Regions from separate parts of the Homo sapiens genome. Here regions 1 and 2 are each linked to region 3. Evidence: fine-mapped expression QTL. A gene starts in region 3. Each other region holds a variant in brackets. All regions are shown on one strand. Distances are from middle to middle. Region 1 overlaps DOCK2 (dedicator of cytokinesis 2). Region 2 overlaps DOCK2 (dedicator of cytokinesis 2). Region 3 holds the start of DOCK2 (dedicator of cytokinesis 2).

Region 1 (4,277 bases), 400 kb after region 3:
GAGTATTATATCTTTGCATACTTCTGAGAATATTTCTGTAGAACAGATTCTGCAAAGTAGAGTTGTGGGGTCAGAGGATATGTGCATTTACAATTTTTACAGATACTTTGAAAATTGCTTCCCCAAAAAAGTTTTCTTGATTTATTCTCAGCAGGGGTGGGTAAAAGTGACCATCTCCCCCACCATCATTATCTATATTGGAAACTATTTTATTTTTATTTTTTCCCATTCTGATGTTAGAAAAAAAATTGCTGCACTATATGGATAAATACATGAATAAATGAACAAAAGGAGCAGTCAGGGAACTTGGGTTGACTGACTGATTTTGCATGTGCTCCATCCCACCGCCCACTGGCCCCAGCACAGTCTTTCTCCCCAGCCATGAGCTCACTGCCCTCTGGTCTCTGCCGCAGCCTGATGGAATGTGCTGCAGAGCACCCAACCATTGCCAAGTCGGTGGAGAACTTCGTGAACCTGGTCAAAGGCCTCCTGGAGAAGCTGCTGGATTACCGGGGTGTGATGACAGATGAGAGCAAAGACAACCGCATGAGCTGCACCGTGAACCTGCTGGTGCGTGGGGCTGGCGGGTCCAAGTCAGACCAGAACCCTGTGGGGGGGCTTGGGCTTGGCTTTGGGTCTCACGATTGTTCTTCATAGGGAAGCAGTGCTTAAGGGCTTTGGAAAGCAGACAAATGTGGAATGGAACGTCTGCTGCGCTTTCTGCTAGCTTTGTGTCTTGAGGCCGTCACTTCACCTTTCTATGCCTGCCTCCTTATTTATAACATGAGATTAATGCATATTCCCTTTAGCACTCAACACATCACATGGAAGGAAGATGACAGTATAGACTGGCTAAGAGTATGAGCTTTGGAGTCACACAGCCTCTGGGTTTCCATCCTATATCTGATAATTAATGGGATGGACAAGCTAAGGAAATGTTCTGAAGTCTTAGTTTGCTTATCTATTACATGGAGAAAATAATGGTTCCAATTTCATTAGGTTGTGTTGCCCTGGCCCATGGTTAAATGCTCACTACGTATTAGTTTCCTTCTTCTTATAGAATGGAGTCACACTAATAACTAGAATTGCTGTTACTATGAACCAGGTTAACCAGAGAAGCTAACCCCAGACCCAAGTTCTTAACCCCTATATTCCATGAGCTCCCATGGGCTGGCTGCCAAGCAGCCTCTCTCACACGCTCTGTGATTCGACCAGGAGACAGGTAGGTAAGCAGCCATAATGCTTCATATTCACCGTGTCATCCCACCTTAAAGTGGTTTAAAAGAATGAAGTTGACCAAAAGGCCACGTGACATCCATCACATCAACCTCCCTACCATTCCCAAGGCTCCTGAAACACAAAACCTGTCCCCAGAGCTCTGTTGTGTGGCCTCCCTTTACCCTAAATAGACTTTTTTTTTCAACAGCCTAGATATTGCCATTGATTTTCTAGAATGCCAAGGAGAGTTTAAAAATCCCGATGACAGCAGAAAGGAATTCATTGCTAATAACTCCACCAGGCCCAGTTTACATAAAGATCATGAAGAGGTGTTTTCCACGAGCTGAGCAGCTTCTCTCTAAGGAGAGACAGAGTTGGTTGAGGAAAGTGACCTTTAACAGCCAGCTAAGATCAGGGAGAATGCTTGGGACAGACAGTTCTCCAAGCACTGAGACACCACTAGTTTTTAGTGCATTGCTTAAATATGGTGTCAAGGAGGAGGGTGGGGATGGAGGTGGTATCAGGACAAATGATGTCCAGTATGATTTGCCACCCATTGACTGTGTGCTCTGGAACATGTCACCACCCTTCTCTGACCCTCAGGTGCACGTGGGTGTGCTGCATTAAACCAGGATATACACCTGGTGTGGCTCATGGATTGGACCAGGACCACCTGGCTCAGAATCTGTAGGGACTTGTTTAAAAAATGCCACAGGATTAGGATCTCTGGTGGTGAAGTCCAGGGCAGCTACTAATCTAAATGGCCCCTGAGCTGGAATAGGGACCTAGATTCCTACGTATTGCCAAGTTTAAATGTTTTGGCGACAGAATCCCATATAATTCCTGATAGTTCTGCACTATCAGGAATTCTGATCTCTTACTATTACCGAGGTGCTACCACTCACTTTCCAACTCAGGTTCTTTCCAGTGCAAGGCCTGAGCTTTGAAACATCAAGCTGGGCTGCCTTTCAATGTGGGCCTGGTTAAAGTAGACTACCCCAGTCTTGGCAGCCCACCTCTCAATGCAGCAAAACACTGAACTGCCCCTCCTGATATGTGATGGCTGAGACACATCAAGTCCTCTCTGTTCCTTTATAGTCTAAGGGTCAGGGAAGTGACTTTCAAAGCAGAATCTTCCAATTAGGCTGTTTGATGCATCTTTGGGGCATCCAGGAAAATAAGTTTCTTATTCCTATCTCAGGGTACCCAGATACTAGACAGCAATCTTCCTCTCATCTTCATCACCACACCCTTGACC[G/T]CTGTGATATTGCAGAGAACAACACTCATCATTGTTTTTCCTCCCCTACCTAGAATTTCTACAAAGATAACAACAGGGAGGAGATGTACATAAGGTAAGATTCATATTTTCTAAAATCCAGACCTGCTGTGTCACTTTCCTGCTCAGTATCCATCGATGGCTCCCTGCTGCCTTCAGGATAAAATTTAAACTTCTCTTCTTGACATTCAGGCCCTCTGTGTTCTGATTCCTGTCAATTTCTCCAGATTCAATTCCTTTCATTCTCCCACAGTCAGCCCCATAAAACCACGTGAAATCGTCTGGCCTTCCATGCTGTCCTGTTGTTCCCACAGATCATATTTTCCTTAAGAGTGAATACTTTGTGATTTGAACTGTTGGGGTGCATTTGCATTGTTGCGGGCCTGACCTTGGATAAATTACTGTGAAGCCTGAGTCCAGACATGTAGTAAGACCATTGACTAGCCCAGTTTTGAAGGGAAAAAAAAGATACTAAGATGCATGATATCTGCATCCTTGTAGGCATTTAAATGATATTATTTGAATATATCATGAAGGTTTTTTGGGGACATTAGCCTGAAGCAAAGAACTCCTTTGCCAGTTTTTCTCAGAATCTCATATTTTTTTCTGCAATTTAAAAATTATTGTTACTTTTATTTATAATAAAAAATATATACTTATTACAAAACAAAAATAAACTTATAAAATATGGGCAAGCAACACAACAAATGAAATAAATTCCCATAATCCATACATATTTCCAGGACTTTTTTATATTTATATATACATTGAATTCTATGCATGCATATTTTTTGCAAAAATGGGTTTATATTACTTGTAATTTATTCTTTGCTTTTTCTAACTTGACAAGAACTCCATGTTGACAGATGTATATCAACATCATTTTTAATGAAACTATAAAATTTTTTCCAGAATATATCATCATTTATATAGCCAATCCTATATTGTTGAACATTTAGATTGTTTCCAACTTTTTCTACAATAAAAAGCACAAAAACAAATTTTTTTTTTTTTTTTTTTTTTAAAGACAGAGTTTCGCTCTTGTTGCCCAGGCTGGAGTGCAGTGGTGCCTATTCAGCTCACTGCAACCTCTGCCTCCCGGGTTCAAGTGATTCTCCTGCCTCAGCCTCCCGAGTAGCTGAGACTACAGGCCTGCACCACCACACCTGGCTAATTTTGTATTTTTAGTAGAGACGGGGTTTCACCATGTTGGCCAGGCTGGTCTCGAACTCCCAACCTCAGGTGATCCACCCACCTTGGCCTCTCAAAGTGCTGGGATTACAGGCGTGAGCCACTGCGTCCGGCCACAACAACAAAATTCTTGGACGTATACCTTTATGCACATCCTTATGAGGCTGGAGCCCTTGAGGTAGAGTCAACCAGAAGATTGAGGAGCAAGGTATTTACAGGGCTTTTGTCACATTCTGTCAGAGGGCAGAAACTTCAAGTCTACGCTCACTCTGCTATTACGGCAGATATATCTAGGTACCTAGTTTAGCATTACTCCAGAAATAGGAGCTATCATTTGGAGAAAAATAATTTTATAGGTTGTCCTGAGTTTGGGATATTTATAACATCACTAGTCATACCTTATTGTAGCAGCACAAAGCTTTGGGGTCTGAAGGACCTCGGTCCTTGCCTCACTTTTTCTGTAACCTTGGATAAATTACTCAATCTTTCTGGGTTGAGGTTTTCCTACCTGTAGAATGTTTCCGTCCTACCTTCTGTTTTGAGGATTAAATGAAGTACTATAGGTAATATGGCTGCCACATGGTTTCCTCCC
Region 2 (4,277 bases), 290 kb after region 3:
TCATGCCATTCTCCTGCCTCAGCCTCCCGAGTAGCTGGGACTACAGGCGCCCGCCACCACGCCTGGCTAATTTTTTGTATTTTTAGTAGAGATGGGGTTTCACTGTGTTAGCCAGGATGGTCTCAATCTCCTGACCTCATGATCCACCCGTCTCGGCCTCCCAAAGTGCTGGGATTACAGGCATGAGACACTGCTCCCGGCCCGAAAAATTCTTTATTCAGGGCTGGATGATGAGATGGTATAACCAGCAGGAATCTTCCTTGGGTTTCAGTAGGTGTGGGAATTAACTCACAGATCCATGTGTGTGTATGCATTTTTTCTTAAACAGGTGGTAGAGAGGGTACAAATATCAGGGAGAAAGTCCACAGAAGCAGGATAAGATACTGTCAACCTGGGGTTCCTTCAGGCCTTCCCAGCCAAACCCTTCCCCCTGCAACTCAGGATCAGCCACCTCATTGACTTGCCCCACCCAAGGCCAAACCAATATTGACAGCAGCCTCAATGCACCAGCAGGAGGGGTCTACAGTTATTGCTGCCACAGGTCTTACACCAGATGGCCCTCGGTGGGCCAGCCTGTTCTTGCCCAGTCTGTTCTTGCCCTGTTCTGACCAGTGGCAGTGCTGCCTTACCAGGGATGCCCTATCTCCACCTGAATGAACCAGGTCTGGGTTTGCACTGCTCTGCCCCAGAATGCCCCGCTGTTTTCACGTAGTCAGGCAGGTTCCCCAGCCTTAGTTCTACCAGAGCCAGCCTCCTCGCTTCCCCATGCATCAGTGCTGCTGAGAGTGAATCCAAGTTACGGGAGTAACCTTGCTGAGCAGGAGGCCAAAACCAGTGAGTGACATGAAGCATCGTCCATCCAAAAGAGAGGCCAAGAAAGCATGGAAAGGACAGTGTCATGGAGGCCTAGCAGGAGACAAACTTTTAAAAGAGGCAGAGAGATCTAAATACATCCAAACTGTTGAAGCGTAAAGCATTAGAAAAAAATATGATTTCTCAACAAGTTATGACACCTTCATAGAGAACAGTTATACAGGAATGAGTGGGTGGAAGAAAATAGCAACCACAGCCCAATAATGCAGATCTAATGTTATTAGGTTAAATACTACACAAGTAATTACTCAGTGATGAAAATTATTAATTGTGCACATGATGCTCACTCTATGCCCTGGGTGTTTCTGTTCCTGCTTGAATAGTGGAATAATTAGCAGATAACTGCGCTATTAATTATGCCAAAGCTTGCTTTGAGATAGACTAAAAGGCCAAACATGTAGGATGAGGAGGAGCTATGTGTTCTGTTCATCTTTGTGCCCTGAGAAGAGCAGATGGAAAGCTTGAGGTCAACCTGGGCCCACAGCTGGCCAGGTAGACTGAAGTTCTGTCATGCCCTGCCTTGAAAGGGAACCAGAGTGCCTATGCAGGAAGCCCACGCACATAGCACTTAGGCATAGCAGGGGGTTAAAGGTGTTTTCAAGTTCAAGTCATGACACATTTATAAGCCAAAGCCCCAAGGGCCAGTATTTTCCAATCTCTTCCTCCACCATCCTTGGCCATATGGTAAACATTTCTCTTTCCTTTCCCCATTGACACCAACAAGTTCATCTCACATGGGTAAGACTCAGACAAATCCCATAGCTTTTTACACGTAGATTTTCCACAAAGCGAATCCCGGCAAACGATATACAGAACTCCTAGCTTATCTTGCCATGGGATGAGATAAGATGGTAAGAAGTCATCCTGTGGCCAGGTGTGGTGGCTTATGCCTGTCATCCCAGCACTTTGGAAGGCTGAGGGGGGAGGATTGCTTGAGCCCAGTAGTTTGAAAACAGCCTGGGCAACATGATGAAACCTTGTCTCTAACAACAACAACAACAACAAAATTAGCTGAGTGTGGTGGCACATGCCTGTAGTCCCTGCTACTCGGAGGCTGAGGCAGGAGAATCACTCAAGCCTGGGATATGGAGGTCACAGTGAGCCAAGAGGGGATCACTGCACTCCAGCCTGGGCAACAGAGTGAGACCCTGTCTCAAAAAAAAAAAAAAAAAAAAAGAGAGAGAGAGAAAGAAGCTATCCTGCTGGAGTCTGAAAGCTTGACCTAGCACTTTCCTATAGACCCTTATATGAGGATAGAAATCTTGTTTTGTGCTCCTTGTTTTGTGCTCCAATATGGTAGCCACTAGCCACACATGCCTGTTAAACATATGCATATTAAACATATTAAACATTGAAATAGGGCTAATGTGACTGAAGAATAGAACTTTATTTGTTTATTTATTTATTTATTTTGTTTATTTTTGAGACAGAATCTTGCTCTGTCACCAGGCTGGAGTGCAGTGGCACGATCTCAGCTCACTGCAATCTCTGCCTCCTGGGTTCCGGTGATTCCCCTGCCTCAGCCTCCCGAGTAGCTGGGACTACAGGTGCATTCCACCATGCCCAGCTAATTTTTTGCATTTTAGTAGAGATGGGGGTTTCACCATGTTGGCTAGGATGGTCTCAATCTCCTGACCTTGTGATCCGCC[T/C]GCCTCGGCCTCCCAAAGTGCTGGGATTACAGGCTTGAGCCACCGCACCTGGCCTAATTTAAATTTAAATAACCACATATGGGTGATGGTTAAAGCAGGACTTCAGAAGACACTCTGGCTTTAGTTCTCCTTATGCACTCACGACTGGGGTTGTCTGGGCTCGAGGGACCTCAGAGCCTCTTAGGGTAATGTGTGTCCTCTGGGATGACATTTCTTGGACAATTTCCCTTCTCCTCTGAAATGTGAGCTTCATTCATGGTAAATGAGTAAAAATCTGCCTGGAATTACTTACAAGGGTGAAGAATGAACATATTAACAGGCTATAGATAATAAGAAAGTCCTTTAAAAATGAATGTGGTGGCTGCCAAATCAATTTGTGCAAAATAACGGTAGACAAGGATGAGCTGCGGCTGACAGGGAGCAATTAAGTTTTGTAATTTTACCTTGAATTATTAATTTCAAGAAGGGTTGCTTCTCTCACTGCAGTCTACATCTTCGCCCTTTGAGAGTCGGGTGGAAGGCACTGTGGGTGAGCCTCCATTTCCAGGTTGTTGAGAAACCATCTCTCTTGGTTTCTTTTCTTATGCTTTCAGCTCTTCATTGGGGGTTGCACTTCATTTTCTTCTCACATTCACAACAAATTAGCCATACACATAAATACAATAAAGGATACCTGTCCCAAGGAAAAGCATCCTCATCACATGTCATGGGCCAGTCCCTTTTACAAGGTGCTCCTGCACAGCCATGGCAGGTACTCATGTGTGTGCCAGACAGAGGGGAGTTTCTAAGCTAGGAAAAGTGGATTTGTGGGAAGTTGTTTTCCTCCAGGTAAAGATAAAGTGGCTTTGCTTGACTGGTTGACTCATTGGCCAAACTAATGATGCTACTAACACCCTTGATCTTAGGATTAAGCATTGTCTGGGATATTTTGAGTCATGAAAGTTACCTTCCTACAGAGCCCAGCTCTAGGAAACCATCTTACAAATACATGTGCATCCCAAAGACGACCAGGAGAGTGAGGAAGGCTTGGCTCAACCCAGCCCAGTTGCTGACAAAGCCATCAAAGTACAGGTCTTACTTCCAACAGTGGGTCAGTGGGAAGAACACAAACACCAGCGTCTCTCAAAGGGCTTGCCTTGATATTGCCGCCTCTCGGCAATTGAACACTTCTCCCGTTCGCCTGAACCCTCAGACTTCTTTGAAGAAACTCTTTCCACCTATCCAAGTGCACTAAGTTCCTGGCATATAAAATTAGATGTGGTTATTTTATGAGGTGGTATCGTTTTGTGGAAAGTTGTTTTGGGGTGGGAGGTCAGACCAATTCGGGTTTTAATTTCATTTCAGTTACTTATTCGCTGTTTGACTTTGGCAAACTGACACAAGATCTCTGAGCCTGCTTCCTTGTCTGTGAAACTGGGCTAATGCTGCTGTGTGAGATGGTGGTGAGGGTTATAAGTGAGGAAGGTGAAGTTCCTAGCACAGTAGCTCACATGGGAGAAGGTGGCTGGCACTGTGCTTCCAGGAGATGGAAGCACAGCCAAGTGGCCCAGAGGACAATTCCCAGCTAGCCCCAGAAATAACAGGAATCCTTCCTCCAGGGATCATAGCCTTCTGAACTGCTTCCCTCCTGCCTGCCCTTCTCTATGTTCCTCTTTCTTCACTGTGGGTCAGGGAAAATATCATGCATTCATTCACTCATTCATGTATTCAACAAATACCTCTGGAGCCTGCTGCCTGCCAGGAACTGCTCTAGGT
Region 3 (4,154 bases):
ATTGTAATATTCACCATCAGGTACTTTGTGGAAAATATCTAAATCTGTGATGTTATTGAATCAGTGGTATCAAAGGTTAATTTTATTAGCTTTTCTGGACTTTTAACCATTGCCCATTTGGTAAACATTTTTTTCAGAAATAGAAAGTAAATATCCTGTCAGATCAGCATTAACATATGAATATTTGAATCAATTTCGATAAGGCACATTAACTTTGAACTCCAATAAGGTGAAATGTGATATCATTCCCAAAATGTATTTTTTTTTGCCTTACTAAGCTAGTATTACAAAAAATACTCATTCACATGATATTTTGAATTTTATTAATAAAAAAAATTTAGAACCTTTTTTCTTTCTTTACATAAGTACCTGCATCCTACATATATACTTGATTTTGCTTTCTGGACTGCAAAGACTAAAATACTATCTGTGACTTTACAGAAAATGTTTGGCATCCTCTATTGTATAGTCCCAATTTATAACATTGTTGTGATAGCTAGTTTTGTGAGTCAACTTGGCAAGGCTATGGCCCAGTTATTCAATCAAATACCAATCTTCACAATCTTCACAGGGGTTGCTGTGAAGTACTTTGTAGATGTGATTAACATCTACCATACATTGAATTTAATTAAGGGAGATTATCCTCAATACATTTGGTTGGTGTGATCCAATTAGTTGACAAACCTTATGAATAGAACTGAGGTTCCTTGAAAAAGAAGAAATTCCTCCTGAGGACATCTGCCTGTGAGTTTCCAAACTGCTCTTCCTGACAGCCCCACAATCGCATTAGCCAATCCCCAATCTCTCTCTGTCTCTCATATACATATATATGTATGTGTATATATATATATATATATATGCATATATGTATGTGTATATATATATGCATATATGTATGTGTATATATATGCATATATGTATGTGTATATATATGCATATATGTATGTATGTATGTGTATATATATATGCATATATGTATGTATGTATATATATGTATGCATATATATAAAATCTCCTACTCTGGTCATCTGGTGGAACCCTAATACCACTGCTGACTGTATAAGACATTATTACCTAATTTGTGCTGCTAGAAAACAGAAAAGAAAATAACTGCAGATAAAACAAAATCAATAATTTTTTGTTGCTCCAGTTCAGCTGTGATATTGCCTAATCTATCTTAATGACTCTCCAGTGTAAGGCAGAAAGGGGTAGTGAGAGTCATGAATAAAGAAAGAAAACTCAGCAAAACTTAAATTCAGCCTTATCACTGTGGATCAGACTTTTTTTTTTTTTTTTTGGACAGAATCTGTTCTCAGAGCAAAAATGAGATTTTTCGAGGAAATGTCTCCATTAGCCTAACTCTAGGGCTCTTTTCCTGGGTCCCACTGTTGCTGGCTGTGACAGCACCCTTCACCTTGCAGTGATGTTGGTAAATAGTGTATTTACGTATTTTCAGAGTAGAGCTTCTAGAGCTTACATCAGATTTTCCAACGGGTTTGTAGCACCAAAACGATAAAAAGCTGTAAATGGGCCAGGCACGGTGGCTCACACCTGTAATCCCAGCACTTTGGGAGGCTGAGGCTGGCGGATCACCTGAGGTGGGGAGTTCGAGACCAGCATGACCAACATGGAGAAACCACGTTTCTACTGAAAATGCAAAGTTAGCCGGGCATGCTGGTGCATGCCTGTAATCCCAGCTACTGGGAAGGCTGAGACAGGAGAGTCGCTTGAACTCGGGAGGCGGAGGTCGCGGTGAGCCGCGATCGCGTCGTTGCACTCCAGCCTGGGCAGCAAGAGAGAAACTCGAAACTCCGTCTCACAAAAAAAAAAAAAAAAGGCTGTAAAGGATCCACCTCCAGGTAAACATTTACTCTTCCATGTCACCTGCTGTGTACATTGTCTCTCTAACCCTCACAATAATCATATGAAGTAGGTATTAGTATCCCATTTCACAGATGAGAAAACTGAAGCTTAGAAAAATGAAGTCATTTGTCCCCGTCTGGATTCGAACCGAGATCTGACACCAAAGCTCATGCTGAGGGGAGTTAAGGAGGTTTGTTCAGTCCCTAGGCACGGCAATCAGGAAACTCTCTGCACTTGCGGTGGTGGTCTGGCGAGCCCCAGGTGGGGACTGGCCTCTGCTCCCTCGCCTGGGGAGGAGACAAAGTGGGAGTGGTCCCCAAGTTTTGCGTGAAGTGGGGTGGGGTGGCGTGTCTTAGCCTACGGGGCACCAGCCTTCTAGTGTGCCCCTGCCCAACGGGAGGGAGGAGGGAGCGGGGAGCCCCGGCGAGGGAGGAGAGGGCGGGCCCTGAGAGGAGTTTGAAAAGAGGAAGGAAGTGGGGCCCTGCGGCGCCCAGCCACCCCCTGACGGCTTCCCCACGGGAGGACGCGAGGCCCCGGCCCAGCCATGGCCCCCTGGCGCAAAGCTGACAAGGAGCGGCACGGCGTGGGTAGGTGCGGGCCCCAGGGCGCGGCAGGGAGCGGGACAGGTGGCGGGAGAGCCGCGAGCAGGAGGATGCTGCGGGGCCGGCGGCGCGGGGTGGGCAGGGCGCGCTGCCTGCAGGTCAGAGGGCGCAGCCTGCGGCGGGGCCTCGGGGCGGGAAAGCCGAGGCTCGGGGAGAGGACGGCGGGACCCCACCCCGCAGGCTAAGCACAGCCCTCGCCCTCTCGCCTGCTGAGGGAACCTTAGACATTTCCGAGATAGGGTCAAGACCTGCGCTTGACAACTCAGTTCTTCGCGCCAAACTCGGCGTCCCCAGGAGTGCCCCAGCTCGCCGCGTGGGAGACTTGGCCTTGTAGAGGGAGCTCCACTCTCCCCTGGCTCAGCCTTGGCCTGCCCACCATGCATACTTCCACCCCCTCCAAAGCGACACCCATTTGCCTGCTTCCCCTGTCTGTTCCTCCTGGGTCAGATGACTCCTGATTTGGCAGGGCATCCAGAGGGCAGCTCAAGCTTGGGGGAATGGGGCTGGACGGTGGGGTTCTCTACTCAGCCCCCCAGAGCCTCTGGGGAAAAAGGCTCCCGCCAGGTGGTCTTAGGGTAACCAAGAAGCTAGCTTCGTCAGCCTCAGCCATCTAAACTCCCAGAAGCCTCTGCCTGGAGCTCAGGGGCGGAAGTGGTGGCTGGGGGAAGGGAGGCCTCAGGTGCTGCTACTCTAAGTGTCATCCGTGGTGCAATCTCCATGGACTCACTGTGGTTTTTAAACTTAAATATCAAATAAAAAGTCACTCTGGAGCTTCCTACACAGGCGGATACCAGACACCATCTCAGAGATAAATATTTCGCAGGTGAGGCATTGGAAGACCCAAACACCCAGAGGGATTTGATGCAGGGGGTCCCCAGGCCACTGTTTGGGAAACACTGCCCTGGAGAGATCAGCAGTTATCCACTCAATTACTGGGTACCGGGCACTGTGGGGTCATTTTGATATAAATGGTCCCCATCCAGAGAACAAATAATAATTCATATCTCAAGGGGCAGTTACAAAGTAAGGAAGGATACAGCTTCTGCCCTTGAGGAGTTATGTGTAAGGCTAGAGGCTTGGACTGGGAAGTCAGAACTGAGTTCAAATCAGGGTCTGTTTCCTCGTCTATAAAGTGGAAGTAATAATAATGCAGGTCTCATGAGACTCTTGTGAGGATTGAATGGGGTTATGCATGGAAAGCATTTAGTAGTGTGCTGGCTCAATAAGAGTTAGTGATTCAGGTCCAGGGTCTTACCTAGCAGCTTCAGAACCAAGAGACACCAGCACCAAGATGCACCCTAATGCCAGATTCAGGACAGTCATGCCTTATGAGACTGTAGTATTTCATGGTTTGCAAGACCAAAGGTCATGCAATCTCTGTCTGACTTCAGAACCCCCATGTGAGGCAGTGTATTATTCCCAACTTACAGGTGAAGTAACCAAGTTTACATCACTTGGAAGCAATGGAGCGGGCCTTAAATTCAATTGTCTTCAGACCCTAGGCCCTTTGCATGGCACCAGAAAAGCATCTAGAAGGGGAACATCATGGGTAAAGGCAGGGAACTGGCATCCCTGAAGTGTGTGGGTCAAACAATAAGTAGTCTGTTTTGGTTTTAGTATTGCTTTTAGTGTTAAAAAAATTTCAGAGGTAGATTATGGCTAGATTGTGAAGGGCTTTGAGTGCCAACC

What was found. PIP is the estimated chance that this variant, and not a neighbour inherited with it, causes the effect.
Region 1: its variant is the best candidate, but not a certain one, in a credible set for the expression of DOCK2 in whole blood (TOPMed, PIP 0.60).
Region 2: its variant is the best candidate, but not a certain one, in a credible set for the expression of DOCK2 in whole blood (INTERVAL, PIP 0.86).

Annotation. Positions count from the first base shown.
Region 1 is chr5:170,033,986-170,038,262 of GRCh38, forward strand. It overlaps DOCK2 (dedicator of cytokinesis 2), which reads left to right. Exons shown (of 52, transcript NM_004946.3): 35 at 414-570; 36 at 2,530-2,570. Among named protein-coding and RNA genes, the nearest start is that of MIR378E, 7.6 kb to the left of the region's middle. The variant G/T (reference allele first, on the strand shown) is at 2,477.
Region 2 is chr5:169,927,714-169,931,990 of GRCh38, forward strand. The region is part of intron 27 of DOCK2 (dedicator of cytokinesis 2); the gene reads left to right. All of the region lies in intron 1 of INSYN2B (inhibitory synaptic factor family member 2B), which reads right to left. Among named protein-coding and RNA genes, the nearest start is that of INSYN2B, 51 kb to the right of the region's middle. The variant T/C (reference allele first, on the strand shown) is at 2,523.
Region 3 is chr5:169,634,920-169,639,073 of GRCh38, forward strand. DOCK2 (dedicator of cytokinesis 2) reads left to right here and starts at 2,356. Exons shown (of 52, transcript NM_004946.3): 1 at 2,356-2,450. The coding sequence starts at 2,408. RefSeq lists silencers at 2,224-2,703, 2,734-2,793 and an enhancer at 3,054-3,153.